Linked DNA regions of Homo sapiens: region 1 is linked to region 2. The links come from fine-mapping of genetic effects on gene expression. Tissue or cell type: skeletal muscle. Region 2 holds a variant in brackets; the other region holds the start of a gene. All regions are shown on one strand. Distances are from middle to middle.

What was found. PIP is the estimated chance that this variant, and not a neighbour inherited with it, causes the effect.
Region 1: SMOC2 starts here. The variant in region 2 is fine-mapped to the expression of SMOC2 in skeletal muscle (GTEx, PIP above 0.99).

What each region holds. Positions count from the first base shown.
Region 1 is chr6:168,437,318-168,445,458 of GRCh38, forward strand. It overlaps SMOC2 (SPARC related modular calcium binding 2), which reads left to right and starts at 3,867. Exons shown (of 13, transcript NM_001166412.2): 1 at 3,867-4,137. The coding sequence starts at 4,054.
Region 2 is chr6:169,116,068-169,124,208 of GRCh38, forward strand. No RefSeq gene overlaps it. Among named protein-coding and RNA genes, the nearest start is that of LINC01615, 43 kb to the right of the region's middle. The variant A/T (reference allele first, on the strand shown) is at 4,642.

The DNA of each region.
Region 1 (8,141 bases), 680 kb before region 2:
CTCTCTGCGTCTTTCATACCCCAAACCTCAGAGTCACACAATATGTCCATGTCACAAACCTGCACGTGTGCCCCCGAGTCTAAAATAAAAGCTGAAATTATTTTTTAAAAATTTGCCACAAAGTGCCTGAAAAGTATTATCATAAAAATTGTCCTCAGGCATCTTAAGAAGGAAGAAGAGGCCGGGCGCGGTGGCTCACGCCTGTAATCTCAGCACTTTGGGAGGCCGAGGTGGGCGGATCACGAGGTCAGGAGATGGAGACCATCCTGGCTAACACAGTGAAACCCCGTCTCTACTAAAAATACAAAAAATTAGCTGGGCGTGGTGGTGGGCGCCTGTAGTCCCAGCTACTCGGGAGGCTGAGGCAGGAGAATGGTGTGAACCCGGGAGGGAGAGCTTGCAGTGAGCCGAGATTGCACCACTGCACTCCAGCCTGGGCAACAGAGCAAGACTCCATCTCAAAAAAAAAAAAAAAAAAGAAGAAACTTGTTTAATTATTTTGTTGAGCACAAAGTCCAAATTCTCTGTTACTTAAATATATCAAAATAGGAAGAAAGCCATTGAGTCAGGCCCAAGGATCAAACACACAACTCCACTGTCCACTTTTCAACGTGGTGTGTCAACGCTGGCCTCATCCTGCAGCCGCGGTGACGGTGAGCCTCGGCGGTGCTCTGTTCTGATTTTGTCAACTCTGCCGATGTGGTTTCCTTTCTATATGGCTCACAGGTTTGTGAAGCTGCAGAACTTGGGCTAAAAACCTGGGATTGATGTGGGGATCCTGCATCATTTTTCCGTAGGTTGAAGGGAACAAGTTAAAAGGAAGATGCAAGTCATCAGAATGAACAAGCCAACAAGAGGACAGAGACTCCAGAAACCTGGGGAACTACAGATTCTCGGGTCCAGCCTGGGGGTAGTCTAAAAGGAAAATCACACAGAACTTACCTAAGAAAGTCCAGGTGAACGGTGAAAACTCCTGCTCCCATGATTAAGTAGAAACTAGGAGAAAACATTAATAAGTGACTGGCAGGTGACTGATGATGTGGGGTGATTCTCAGAGTATGAACAGTGACCTGAGTTCAGTCCCAGATGATACTCAGAGTGATGGCAGAGGGGATTTCTGGAAGTCACTGCATCAACAAAGAGATATTTGACTAAACTTATGCTTGGCATATTGAGATGGGAAAATAGCTGACAAAAAGTTTTCTGGCTAAACATGAATTAGCCAGAAATAATAACTAAATTATATCATTTCTATAATGAAAATAAAATCCTTTTGCAGTTTTAGCATAGTAAAATAAATAAAAAGGAAGCCAATACTCATGATAAAGCATTTTGCTAATGGCCTAAGAGGGAAAGTTAGTTTAGAAATGTGAAAACAGCTGGAGTCTTTGGTAATTAGTTTCTCTTGCTGTTCTTTATTGTAACTTTCATCAGTGACAGGCATTTAAATTCTGAATGCATAAGCCACATTTTAGAATGGGCCCTGCATCACTTTTTAATTAAAAAAAAAAACAAAAAAACCTACATTTCCAAGAGAGGGGAACTTCTTCCTGCATCCTAGAGGAACTCTCTGGAAAGTATAGAGCTGATCACTTCCTGTCTTAACTTTGAACTGAGTGAATTACTTTTCTATCCTTTCTAACATGACAGCTCTCTGGCATTCCTGCCAGTAATAACTTTCTTGGAGACTTACAAATAAAAGACAGACATAACTCTTTCCCAGTGTTTTAAATAAATGTATTGTTTTTCTCCATAAAAATGGAACCTGATTATCTCTCCAAACTCCATTTCTAGAATTTTGAGAAACTAAAATTTGGCATTCAGGACACATGAGCTCCTCCAGATTTGAAAGGGGTTTCAAAGGCTCCAAACCTGCCTCATCTGTCAGAGTTTTGGACAAATGCATTTCATTTATCTTCCTAGAGTTCCCAGAGGATTCTGGAGTTGCTACATGAAAGACGTGTTGGGATTCTTGAATACAAGGCACGGAGGGCCAAGGATTTTCTTCTGTTCTCCATATTGCCAGAGGAAGTGACATGGATTTGCCAGTATTGCAGGTTTTAACATCTGCATTCTGTTTATGATTTTGTTGCTTAGGAGATCTGGCTAAGACATTTGGCCCCTTTGACTTTTGTTCCTCATCTGTAGAATGGGAATAATTAAGTCTGCTTCTTGTCTGCCATTCTTGCAGCGGACGATGGTGGATAAATGAACATGCTTTCAAACTTTTGAGTTCTGACGAGCAGTACTCTCAACAAAGTGGAAAGTGAAAAACAGGTTCTTTAGTAGCAAATACTTCTTAAAGGAAGTATGTCAGCTTCGAGTGTAAATTTTATTCTTTGGATAATCTTAGAATTAGTGGTATGTAGTGTTTATTTTCTTTTTACTTTAATTTTCACTGCAGTTCCCTAACAGTGATTCCTATTTACTTAATCATTTGCAGCTGCTCTGCTCACCTGTTTTTCTGGACCCAGGAGCAGTCCCTCAAGAGTTTTATTATAATTTCCTTCTAAGTCCTTAAACCAGGAGGAATGTGTTTAAGTGCTTAATAGATTCCCTGGGCTTTGGAATTTTAAGGAGAATTCTGAGAGTAGCCCTCCTTCAGGAAAAGGTGCATTTCTTTCCCGTCTTTCCGTGGCCCGACGGACATCACTTTCCTGATAAAATTGTGTGGGAAAGGTTGCAATAGCATTGCCTTTGCCTCAGCAGCCAGTCCCAGAACTTGCTGATACAGCCCCCTCCCCCAAAGTTCATAGCCAAAGCAGTGGGCTAGACATCGGATGAAACCTCAGATTTGGATTTTCTGTGTTTTGTGCTTTTCCCAATGCCCCTGACAAGTCAATTGATTCATTGTTCTTGAACAAATCTTCACTCTTCTGGCTTTCTGTGTGAGACAGAATTAGGGCTTTTTCCTGTAAAGTTATAAGCCAAGGCTAAACTATGTCAGCAATGTTGTCTGCAGTGGATATTATCCAGAGTCTGGGTGTGCAAAAATTTCCTGGTTTCCAACGTAGTCTTCGTGGGTGAGTTTACAACCTCCACAAGCCCTGTGCTCCCCGCACAAACACCTGAAATGCTTTGACAGAGCTGTTTAAAAACAGCCACATGTGTCTGTGAATGATGCCCAACCACATGCTCCCCCGACTTGAGAGGATCAAGGCTACAGCCCAGGTCAGACCCCGGATCTTTAGGACCTAAATTCCCCCATCCCTGCAGTGGATAACCCCGTGTAAAGATGCCAAAGGCGGGCTGCCCCCGGCGCAGCCTTTCCTGGACATGTGTTCCCAGCTGCCTTTGCTGGAGCGCCGCTGATCCTTCAGCACCTCTGAGAGGCAATGTTCTGGGCTGGACCAGGGGGCCTTAGAGGGCAGAGGTCAAGGAGAACCCCGGAGTCTGGGGACCGGCCAAGGCTTGGCGTTAACCTTTGTGGATGAAAAGTCCCGCTGGGCTGATCCTGCGCGGACCGGGCCTGGACCCTGGGGCGTGAGGAGGGCGCGGTGCGTCCCGTGGTTGTGCTTGGAAGCCCCCCGAGGGTGCGCGCGCGTGGGTATGAGTGCGTGCGTGTGCCTGGGTGTGCGTGTGTGTAAGTGTGCACGTGTGTGTGTGAGAGTGCGCGCGGGGAAGGAGGCACAGAGACAGCCCGGACAGGCCACTGCGCAGCCCTGGTGGCCCCCGCTCCACCTCTCGCTCCGCAGACCCGCGCCAGGGAGGCCTCTGGGCCGCAGCGGGCACCGGAGCGGAGCGGGCGCGGCAGCGGGCGCTGGGAGGTGGGGCTGGGGGAGGAGAGGGGGAGGGAGAGAGGCGGGCGGGAGGGGAGGATCCGGGAAGCTCCGGGGTATTTGACAGGAGCGAGGGCGGACGCAAAGAACGCGGAGGACCTCTGGGTGCCTGCAGGGGAGCTGCTCCAGCCGGGCCGCCGGGAGCGGTGGGGAGAGCATCGCGGAGCCGCCCCTCCACGCGCCCGCCCAGCCGCGCTCGCCCACTGGGCTCTCCCGGCTGCAGTGCCAGGGCGCAGGACGCGGCCGATCTCCCGCTCCCGCCACCTCCGCCACCATGCTGCTCCCCCAGCTCTGCTGGCTGCCGCTGCTCGCTGGGCTGCTCCCGCCGGTGCCCGCTCAGAAGTTCTCGGCGCTCACGGTAAGCCCGGGCCCGCGGGACCTGGAGCTCAAGTGGTGCCGCCTCTTGCAGCCGGCCGGGTTCGGGTCCCCGCGCCCCGCTCCAGGCCCAGGCGCCTGGGCACGGGGAGCAGGTGGCCCCGGGGGCCGTGGAGCCTTCGCCTGCCGGCGAGGCTGGAGCAGGTAGGACGCAGCGTGCGCGCCTGGGACCCGGCTGGGATGGGCTTCTGGGGACCCTGCCCGCCGGGGTCCTGCTGCGGCTGCGACGGGCTCCTCGGGTTCCACCCGGCTGGGACCCCACCTGCCTCGGGGGCTCTGACCCGGCTGTGAGAGGATCCTGGGGTCCTGCAGACCCCGGACAAGTGGGAGCTGCGGGTGCGCTCGGGTGTCCCGCACTCACTGCTGGGCCTGAGCCTGTGGGGAACCAGGTCTGGGAGCGCCGGCGCCGCCCCGCGGACTGTCCCAAGGCCAAGACAGACCCGCCGGGACTGGGCGCCCACCTCGCCCACGGGGACCCGGCCTGGAGCGTGTTCTCCCGACCGCTTTGGGCTCGTGCGCCGCGCGGATCCCGGGCCTCTCGCCGGCTGAAGGGGCTGCCAGTCGTGGGCCCCACTCGTGGGTCTGACTCTCCCAGAGACCCTCGTAAGTGAGCCGAGGAAGAAGCAGATGAGGTTACAGATGATTCTTCACGGGCCTGAGTGTTATTAGAGAAGCGCTTTCTTCCCTTCTCAGGACAGAACTGGAGGCAGGCGGCGGCTCCCCGCTCTGCGGGGCCTCTGGGTTCTTCCTCGTGGCAGGGATGCTGCGCTCCTGAGCGCGAGGGTCACCGCGGTTGACCGCTGTGTGTTTTTCTTTCTGAGCTGTAACTTCTATGCGACAGCCTTGGCCCGGCCAACGCACGCGGTGTCAAACGAGGAGCTATGTAGAGGGGGCTGAGCCAAGCCCCCGCCGGCCAAGCCAACCCGCGGCGGCCGCTGGGCCAAGGCCGGGTGTCTGCAGCCCCCAGCTCCAGCCGTCCTCCTGGGCTTGCAGGGTTTGCAAACCCATCATTAATGCAATCGCCAGAAACGAAAACATTCCACTTAAATGTGTTTTTGAACAAGTGTTTGAGAAAACACGAAGGTAGTGAGAACGCCTCTGGTGGACAGCCGTCTTTTTTAAGTGGCCGGGGACTTGTCCTAAAGGTGTTTATTGTATTGAAAATAAAGATGGTTGAAATAAGCTGTGGTCGGTTCTGCCTTTCAGCAAATTTAAAACAGTCATGTGGGCATCTTTTCTTTTTCTTTTTCTTTTTCTTCGTCTTCTTTCTTTTGCGTTTTAGCAGTGTGAAGGATGGTTTGTGAGTTCATTGCTCATACCTCAAATTCTTCTGCAGCAGCCCGGGGTCCCTGCCTTGTGTCTCACAAATGACTTGTAGATTAGAAACTGCTAACTGGGGCTCCAAGGAGGTTTTCACACACTCAGGCTTTCCCTGAAGATCCTTTATCTCCCCAGAGGGGGCCCTCAGAGGATACTCACTGGAGGCATTCATGTATATGCACATCTGTACATGCATCTAGACATAAATATACTCACGTATACACTCACAAAAAGACCCCCCACATACTCTTAAAGCACACTAGAGGAGACAGAGAAACTAAGGCCAATTCTCCAAAGGAGATCATAGCATTTTCTTCCAGGACTGTAGCAGCAGGTACCTACAGTTGCCACGGATTTTCAGATTTTCTGAAAGCGCAAAAAGTAGAGACTGCCATCTGCCTGCTGCCCTGTGTGTGTGGGGGGTGGGGTTGGGCCTGTTGGTCCCCCCTGGAAGAGCAGAATCAAGGTAGTTAGTAATTAGAACAGTTTAAGACTCGGCAGGTTTTCTTGTCTTCTCTCCCCTGTCTCATCTAACTATTTACTTGAACCCTCTCACCTTTTGCCCCCTTGAGGTTGCCCCAAGGATGTCTTGGGTTGCGGTGAGACCCGCTGCATGTGGGGTCTCTGTGCAGGAGCTGATACCCCACGTGGGCTTTGCCCTGTTGGCTGCATTCCCCAAGAACAGTTTGCCTGAAATTTACATTTGCAAATAAAATCAGTATCCCGAAGAAAAGATTAAAGCCATAACACATTTTGGCACACTTCTTCTCACCCCACCCCCAGTCTAGAAAATCAAGAAGTAGTTGAGTTACAAAGTAACTGAGGCAGGCCTGAAATCTGACTGGTCGCTGGGAGATGTGAGATGTGCAGGATTTTTCAGTGTGCTCATCTCTTTTCAAATTGCCTTCTGGTTTTTGGAAATCTCTTTTGTCTCCGGAGGCCCTCATTCAAAGAAGGGCCTTCTCTCCCTACGATTTGCATCCTACCTACTTTAATAAATCAAGAGGCAGTATCAGTCCATGCAGTGGGTGGGACCCACAGCTTAGGGTCTTGCTGGATGTGTGACTTCAGGCAAGTTACTTAATTTCATAATCTTCAGTCCCCTTATCTGTAAAATGAGAATACATAATCTCTTTCAAGCATGTGGTGAGGATTAAAGGTAGGGCTTTTAATGCGCCTACTATATGTGAGTTCTCCAGCTAACATTGTTTTGATGGTGCCCATGCCGTGGGTCCGTATAAGAGAGTGCTATCAATTGATACCGTAATTATCAATGCATATAGCGTTGTGGCATTAAGGTGTGTGTGGATTCAACTTTGCAGTATTTTCACCTGCCGCAGATTCTCAGAGCACACCACTTGGCTCTGGGTGTATCTGTGGACTTTGTGGGAGTAGCCATGTGGGACTCTATAGACCAAGGAGGAAAGCTTGCCTCTCTGCCTCCTTCTACTCCATTCATTTCTTCTCATCTAGAAGCAGGGAAATATGTCAGCCTCTCTGGGGCTTTCAGTTTGCCATACCTGGCTTCTCAGGACCACGCATTTGTCTTACTCACCTATGGTGAGTGTGCTTTCTTGGTGGGTCCAGCATTGCTGGTGTGCTCACCTCTGCTACTTTATGTTTAAGATTCAGAGAATCCACTTTGTCTGGTAATGATCTCTCTTCTTTCCACCAAAGTCATTCTTTAGAAATGGCACCATGAGGCCCTCTGTGTCTCTCATTGTGACTTTCTGATGGCTTTGCACAACTTCCTGGTTATTGCTCAGACCCTCTCACCTCCAGTCAACAATGGCATTCTTAAGTGTGTCCAATGCGCTCTTAATTTGGATGCAGGTCAATTTCTTCCTTGAAGAAGGAGGTACATTGAATGCCACACCGTGCCCATTTTCCTTTTTATTTCTGTGAATGACTGAGATGAGGGAATGATCTCTAGTATAAATGGTTTTTATTACACATAATTCTGTTTTCAAAGAGCAAACAGGCGTGATCACAATTACTCAACTTTATCATGGTTGTCATTATATGAATTTTGATGGACTGATCCATAAGCCCATACCTAGGTGATTTCTTTAAAGGCAGAGAGAAGAACAATATTGCCTGGGACCCCTTTCCCAGAAGTTTTTGGTTAGAGCCAAAGTATTCATTCCCATGTTGACTAAATCATATTTTGCTCACACTTAGAATGTTGAAGTCACATTACCATCCTTCTCAGACTTCTCTTACTGCCAATACCTAACGCTCCCCTAAGGTCATACGCACGACTTCGTTAAAGGTACCGTTGTCTCCACATTCAAGAGATGAGGAAACTGAAGTTTTGAGAGACTCTGAAGGGCACCTGGTCACTAAGCAGATCCGAATATTTCTCAAGTCATCCTGCCATTATTTTTCTTTCTTCGTGGGAGTTCCCTGCACTGTTTTTTGCACTGTCTTCAGGAACTTTACAATTCCACACTGCCGTTTCACCTCTCAGACTGTAGTTGACTTTCATCCTGAATCCTCATCTTCTCACAGAGGGTCTGGCACCTGGTAAATGCCTCTTATTGGTCTTGTGGAATGCATGACCACAGACCTGAAACAGTTATTTCCCACTCCTATTTGTGTTTATTTGCTTTGAAAGAGAAGAAAGGTGATAAGAAAACAATATTTAGCCATGTGTAATTTTTTTAA
Region 2 (8,141 bases):
AAGGGGAAACTAACTAACTATTAAGACCAGAGGTTATAATATAAAGAAATTGTTCCACCTTGTAGATTGGTGTCATCAGATTCCTGAGAAATCTTTACTAAAATGAATTGTAAAAATAACTACCTGAAGAACAGTATCTTCTATTTTAAATGCTACTGAATGAAAGAGCATGTTTTTGTTGATGAAGAACTCACACCTCGCTATTAAACATTTGCTGATGAATATATGTGATCCAAACTCAGAGGAGGCTATTCCTGAGGGAATGCCCAGCCTGGTCTTATTGTGGACATGTGTGAGATGAACACTGGTGTGAGAGATGGTCACTCTCCACCAGAACTGTCCTCATGCGTGCTGCATTGCAGAGAAGGTACACATGACAGTTGGCCTCAGAGTGGTGGGTGGGCCTGCCTTTTGGACCCCAGAGCAACAGCTGGTGCAACTCAGCTCCTGTGCCCCATGGGCTCAGCTGCCAGCCACCCTTCCTGGGCTACGTTTTTTTTTTTTAACTAGAAACCCCTCATTCAAGCATGCATAAAAAATTGTCTAATACTGAAATACTAGAAACTAATTCAAAAACATTTAAACTCTGCCTGCACCAACAGTAGACATTCACTTGCTATGTAAACTTGGGTCAGTTTTCTTTTCTTTCTTTTTTTTTTTTTTTTGAGACGGAATCTCGCTCTGTCACCCAGGGTGGAGTGCAGTGGCACGATCTTGGCTCACTGCAACCTCCGCCTCCTGGGTGATTCTCTTGCCTCAGCCGCCTGAGTAGCTGGGACTACAGGTGCGTGCGACCACACCTGGCTAATTTTTTGTATTTTTAGTAGAGATGGGGGTTTCACCATGTTAGCCAGGATAGTCTCGATCTCCTGACCTTGTGATCCAACTGCCTTGGCCTCCCAAAGTGCTGGGATTACAGGTGTGAGCTACTGCGCCCAGACAATTTGAGGCAGTTTTCTAATCTCTACTAGTCTTAGATTCCTCATTTATAAAATTAAAATAATAATGTAAAATATTGTGTGCATGCATAGTGTTACACCCAATAACTAGAAAAATACTGATAGGCACAGGATGCAGAGAAATTCTAGGCAGAAAAGGACAGGGTCTCTGGCAATGGTCCCACCTTCCAGCCTGGAACTGCTGCCCAAAGAGAGAACTTTACATCTCTGTTTTTCCCACTCAAATGATGCCTTTTTAAAAACCATCCATGGCCTGCCTCTACCCCACATCCTGTGCCCCTGACCTGACTGGCAGAGGGCAGAGAGAAGGAGGGAAGAGAAAAAGCAGCCAGACATCGAAGAGCAGCAGCTTGACTTTTGAGGGATGGCTTGACAGCAGGACTTCAGAGAAGAGTCTGCCTGGAGATGGCCAGACTCCAGGGGAAGATCACCTTCCTGCCCCATCCCCCTTTCAGCTCCCCTTCCCACTGCAAGCTGCTTTCATCAGCAATAAAATCCTCTGCATTCACCACCATTCGATTTGTTCGTGCAACCTCATTCCTCCTGGACATCAGACAAGGACTTGGGTGTGGGTGCAAAAGGCTGTCACACTGATCTTCTACTGAGCTGTTAACACTTAAGCCATCTGCAGACAGCAAAGATAAAACAGCACACTGTAACGTATGCCCTTTTAGGCTTCAAGGTTCGTGGGTACATACCCCCTAGATGTTACCACCAGGGTGCATGGAGTTTTGGTCCTGTCAGTGTCCAAAAGTGCTTGCTGCAGCTTTTGCACCTGCTCACCTGCACGCTCCCTCTCCCACAGGGGGTTGAGAGCTGTAGGCCAAGTAAATGAGGCACCCCTGTCTCGAGGCCCGTGAAGTGGTCGAGGAAAATTTTGCATTTCATCTGGGGGCTTTCCCAGGGTACGTTGCAAGGGTGAGTAAATGCAGATTTGCCCTATCTGTTTCTTTCTGTCTTCAGACTTTCCTCTGAACTAAGCACTTGAAGGGGACAGGAAGCAACTGTACCCTCTCTCTGTTTCTTTCAGGTGAAAGGAATGTTGGCTCTGTTTCCCCTCATGAAAGTGGAGCCATTGCATGGGACTGGAATAAAGTTCTGGGGCAACTGAAGGCATCTGGCCAATGCCACTCCTTGGTGCTGCCAGAAGGCCACATGACTGAACCTGGTCCCCAACCACCTGTTAAGGTTCAGCCAAGACCCCCAGACTTTTCTATGGTATCTTTCCTTCCTTCTTTCATGGTTTGAAATGGCTCCTATCTCTTCTTTTATAGTGTTAAGGGTTTTGCTGCAAACTGCTGACATGTTACTAAGTACAGTGAGAGACTGGCCCAGCCATCAGGTAGCAATTCAGATCAATATGATTTCCGTCTGTTTTTAGCAGTTCCATCCCCACTCCACCCCCACAGTTGCAGGTACATGCTGTGCACAGTGGCTCCCCTCCCGGCTGGAGGGCCTGGGCATGTCCACTGCATGCATGTGTCGTGCCCAGTGGCCAAGCCAGGTGAGAGTGGGAGTGAGCTATGCATGACACCCGGGCCCCAGGGCAGCCTCAGGGGCCAGGGACCCTGTACAGCCAGCTGGCCAGTGCTTCCTGCTCGCCATCCCCTCCTGCCATACACCCACAGAGCCTTTCTTCCCCTGGCCAAGGAGTTCAGCTTGGTCCAAACTGGGGGAGAGATGCAGTGATTAAAGGAACCCGTTTGCAGAAAGCAAGAGTTCCCCCCTCTTAAACCTCTTTTTTCTTTCCTTTTCAATGCGAGAGGGTTCTTCTCCTACCTCAACACTCTGCTTATAACAGGGAGGCAACAAAGGAGTGACACCACCGACTATGAACTGCAAGTTTGGCAAAACCAGTGTGAGAATTAATCTAAATGGACCCACGCATCCCCTGAGACACCTTTTTGGCCCAAATTTGATTCCAAGCTTCTAGTTGAAGCCCTAGAAGGAAAACCAGATTGGAGAAATCCAAGGCAAGGTAACAGGCACAGTATAAATGGGCAGGACTATTTCCTGATGATTAAGCCCCTGCTTCATGGGAGGAGGCCATGCTCCATGGCATAGATGGGGCCCAGGTAACCCAAAGGTTGCTGACAGTAGGAGGGATGAAGGCATAGGTGAGTGTAGACAACTCCTACTCTCTAGGCCCTCCCTGCCTAATGGGTGCTGGCCGCAATGGCACCCACGGATGGTGTCCATCTAAGGTCACTGAGTCTTGGGGATAAAAAAAAAAAAACAGAAGAGAAAAGGGGGATGTCCACATTCTCTCTCCCTCACACCCCAAGTTTTTGCTGAAAGGAGCAAAGGAAACGAGGGACACCTATCTCCCTATCTTTGAGAATGGGCAACCAGCTATCTTCATCACCCCCCGTCTATACTCCCTGGAGTGGATCCTCAATCACTGAGACTGCTTTGACCCTCAGACTCTGGAGGAAAAATTCCTCATAGCCTTCTGCACATAGATTTGGCTGAATTATGATCTGTGGGAAGGGCTAGCTTGGCCTCAGGAAGGAAGCATTCATTTCAATACCAACCTACAGTTAGACCTTTTCTGTAAACCTGAGGATGACAAGTGGTCTGAGGCCCCATACGTGCAGGCTTTCTATACCTTGCAGGGTAATCCAGACCTTTGCTGACAGTTTAGGACTGACCCAGCCCTTCTGTTTGCCATCTCAGGAGAGGCTGCAAGGGGCAATCCCAGGGAACTAAAGAAATTAACCCTAGAGGCCCCTCCAGCAGAGGAGCCAGCTCCCTCTGGCCCTGTTCTTCTGGTCCACCCCATCCTCCCTATCCAGCTTCTCTCTCTCAATTGCCCCCACCTAGAAATCCTCACCCTAGATAAGCCCCAGTCTCACTCTTGCCCTTCCAACAGATGCCTGGCGAGTTTGGCCCCAGTAAGTTCCAGGTCCCCTCTCTCTACAGGACTGAAGGCAAATGAAGGGGGATCTGGCAAGTTTTAAGATGACCCTGACAGATATATAGAGGCTTTCCAGAATTTAACCTCAGTATTTGAACACTTCTGGAAAGACATTATGTTACTTTTGAATCAAACCCTGACTAACAGTGGAGAAGCAGACTGCTCTGCAAGTGGTAAAGGAATTTGGGGAAGAGCTTTGTATCACATGTAGTGCCAGGGAAGGAGTCAAACTTTATCCAAATGGAAGAGAAGCAGTACCAGTGGATGACCCTAAATGGCATCCCAAAGGCCTGATGGGAGAATGGAAGAGGAGATACTTTCAAGTGTGTATAATGGAGGGCTTACATAGTACTAGGACCAAGCCTCTCAATTATAGCAACCTATCTATGAGAGACAAGATATTTGACGAGAATCCCACTACCTTCCTGGGAAAGGCTAAGAGAGGCCTTGGTAAAGTACCTCTCTATCTACTGATTCAGTTGAGAGGCAACTAATCCTAAAAGATAAATTTATTATTTAGGCGGCCCCTGATATTAGGAGAAAGCTGTGAAACAGGCCCTTGGACCAGATAGTACTTTAGAAAACCTCCTGAAAGTGGCCACCTCAGTCTTTTATAATAGAGATAGGGAGGCCCAGGAGAGAGAGAGAGGAAACACAGGAAAGAGGCAGAGGACTTAATGGTCACCATGCAAGCCCACAAACCCCAGAACTCCCAAGGTGCACCTGTTAACTGCTACAGATGTGGTAAGCTGGGGCATTTTAAGG[A/T]TTGCCTAGGCAGCATGAGGAAGCCACTCCAACCCTGTCCAATCTGCAATGGGGACCACTGGAAGGTTGACTGTCCCCAGGGACACTGGTCACTGGATCCAGAACCAATCTCCCAAATGGTCCAGCAGCAGAACTGATGGGTCCTGGGGCTCCTCTCCCCAGCTCCAGTGGTCCAGACCACCATTACCATCCAGGAGCCCTAGGTAATTCTGGAATTCGAAGAGAGGAAAGTGGACTTCCTTTTGGACACTGGGGCTGGTCTCTTGGTTCTCCTCTCCAATCCAGACCCCCTCTCCTCCATTAGCACAACCATGAGGGGTGTCTCAGGAAAGCCTTTAACCCATTTTTTTTCCAAGCTCTTAGTTGTAGTTGGGGAGATCTCTTGTTCACCCGTGACTTTCTAATTGCCTGAAAGCCCAACTCCTCTGTTGAGCAGGGATATTCTGGCCCATATTGGGACCACCATTCTGATGGCCCAGGACAAACTCTTTGTCTCCCCCTAGAGGAAACCAATACTAACCCAGAAGTTTGAGCAATTCAAGGGAAGATTGGCCAAGCCACAACCACCATACCTGTGTGGGCCCACCTTAAAGATCCCTCCTCCAATCATAACCAGAAACAATATCCCCTGAAATCAGAAGTTAGGAAAGGACTCGAAGCCGTCATTGATAACTTAAGTTTGCAGGGCCTCCTCAAACCCTGCAACATCCCTTGTAATATCCCCATACTGGGGGTACAAAAACCCAGCAGGGAATGGAGGCTACTTTGGGACCTCTGCCTCATTTCACCTGGTGGTTCCCAATGCATATACTCTGCTAGCTCAAATACCTGAGGGAACTAAATGGTTCAGAGTCATGGATCTAAAGGATGCCTTCTTCTGCATACCATTACACCCCAACTCTCAGTATTTATTTGCATTTGAGGATCCCTCTAACCAAATCACCCAGTTAACCTGGACAGTGTTACCTCAGGGATTCTGAGATGGCCCCCACTTGTTTGGACAGACACTGTCAAGGGACCTCTCTGAGTTCCTTTATCCTCAGGTTAAACTTTTATAATATGTAGATGACATTCTCCTCTGTGCTCTGAGGAAATCTCTCAGGAGGGCAGTAAGGCTCTTTTTAATTTTTGGCTAACAGAGGATATAAGGTTTAAAAAAATCTAAAGCTCAGTTCTGCCAGCTTCAGTGAAGTACCTAGGCCTGGTCTTGTCAGAGGGAACCAAAGCATTCAGTGAAAAAAGGATTAAGGCCATCTCTTCCTTTCCCCTCGCCACAACCTTCAAGCAACTAAGGGGATTCTTAGGCATTACAGCATTTTGCAGACTATGGATACCTGGGTATGGTGAAATAGCTCAGCCCTTATACCACCTAATAAAGGAGACTCAGACAGCTAAAACTCACTGTCTAATTTGGGAACCAGAGGCTAGAAAGGCCTTTGACCAACTAAAACAAGCCTTGCTTAAGGGAGCCCTTGGTCTCCCCATAGGGAAGATGTTCAATCTTTAGTGTTAGAAAGAAAAGGAATGGCACTGGGAGTTCTAACACGGGCCCACAGTCCAGCCCAGCAGCCTGTAGGCTACCTAAGTAAGGAGCTTGATTTGGTAGCTAAAAGATGGCCAGCCTGCCTCTGGGTGGTTTCAGCTGTAGCCTTGCTGGTATCAGCGGCTACTAAGTTAACCATGGGATATAACTTCACTGCTTACATTCCACATAATGTGGCAGGACTGCTGTCTTCTAAGAAGAGTCTCTGGCTAATGGACAACGATCTCCTCAGATATCAAGCTCTGCTATTAGAGGAATCTGCAGTCCAATTAAGAACCTGTCCCTTCCTAAATCCAGCCGACTTCCTCCCTCCCTTGAGGGAGAATCTCAAGGAAACTCCCTTAGAGAACCCAGACTGGATTCTCTTTAGGGACAGAAGTTGTTTTGTAGAACAAGGGACATATAAAGTAGGGTATGCAATAGTTACCCTGAGTGATACTGCTGAGAGCACACCTCTCTCCTCCGGCACAAGTGCTCAATTAGCCGAACTAATTGCCCTCATCGAGGGGCTTGCATTAAGCAAAGGGAAAGAAGTTAACATTTATACTGATTCTAAGTACAATTTCCTAATCCTCCATGCCCATGCCACTATCTGGAAAGAGAGAAACTTCCTCACAGCTAATGGGTCTCCCATTAAATGCCATTAGAAAATTAATAGACTATTATCCTTGGTTTTCCTCCCATGGGAAGTGACAGTAATACATTGTAAAGGCCACTGAAAAAGAATGGATGAAGTGGCTGAGGGAAATAGGTTGACAGACCAAGCAGCTAAATCAGCAGCAAGGGGGCCCCAGGTCTCTGACCCACTTGAAGGTCCACTCATCTGAGAGGGCCCAATCAGGGAAATAAAACCTCAATAGTCTGCTGCAGAAATAGAATGGGCCACCTCTCATGGATACACCGTTTAGTCTTCCAGGTGGCTACAATTGAAGGACAGCAAGTCTCATCTACTAGCTGCCAACCAACGGAAAGTTCTTAAAAGCCTTCCTCAGGCCTTCCACTAGGTAAGAAAAAAACCTAAATTGGTCCAGAGATTGTTCTCAGGTAAAAACCTGATACAAATGGTTAAACAAGCTGTTAATGCTTGTGAGGCTTGCCTTAAAAATAATCCTCTCAAGTGATGGCTTCTTCCCCCAGGAACCCAAAAGATAGGAGGCTACCCAGTGGAAGACTGGCAGATGGATTTCACCCACATGTCAAAGGCAAGGGGCATCCAATATCTCTCAGTATGGATAGATACCTTCACTAACTGGGTAGAAGCATTTCCATGTTGAACAGAGAAAGCCTCTGAGGTGATAAAAGTACTAATCAATAACATAATTCCTCATTTTAGACTTTCTAAGTACCTCCAGAGTAATAATGGCCCCTTGTTCAAGGTGGCTGTCACCCAGGGGGTCTCAAAGGCACTAGGCATACAGTACCATTTTCATTGTGCTTGGAGACCACAATTCTCAGGAAAGGTGAAAAAGACAAATGGTATTATCAAAAGGCACACCAGGAAACTGTCTCAGGAGACTTATGTCCACTGGACTACCCTTCTCTACATAGCCCTACTATGTATTAGAAACACCCCTTCAAAGCTGGGTGTAAGTGTCTTTGAAATGATGTATGGACAGCCTTTTCTCAGCAATGATTTCTTGCTAGACCAAGAAACTTCTGATTTTATTAAACACATTACTTTTTTAGCTCATTTCCAACAGGAACTAAAATATCTGTCAGAGGCCCAATCCCATGAACCAGAGCCACTTCTATTCAACCCAGGAGACCTGGTGCTGCTAAAGGTACTACCTTCCCTTTAATCTTCTCTAAGCTCAGATTGGAAGGAACCTTACACTACTTCTTTCTACTCCTACTACAGTGAGGGTCACTGGAATAGACTCTTGGATTCATTATACCCAAGTAAAGGCCTGGGAGGCCAATGGAGTTACCTCCATCGACCCAGAAGAGCACCCAAAGT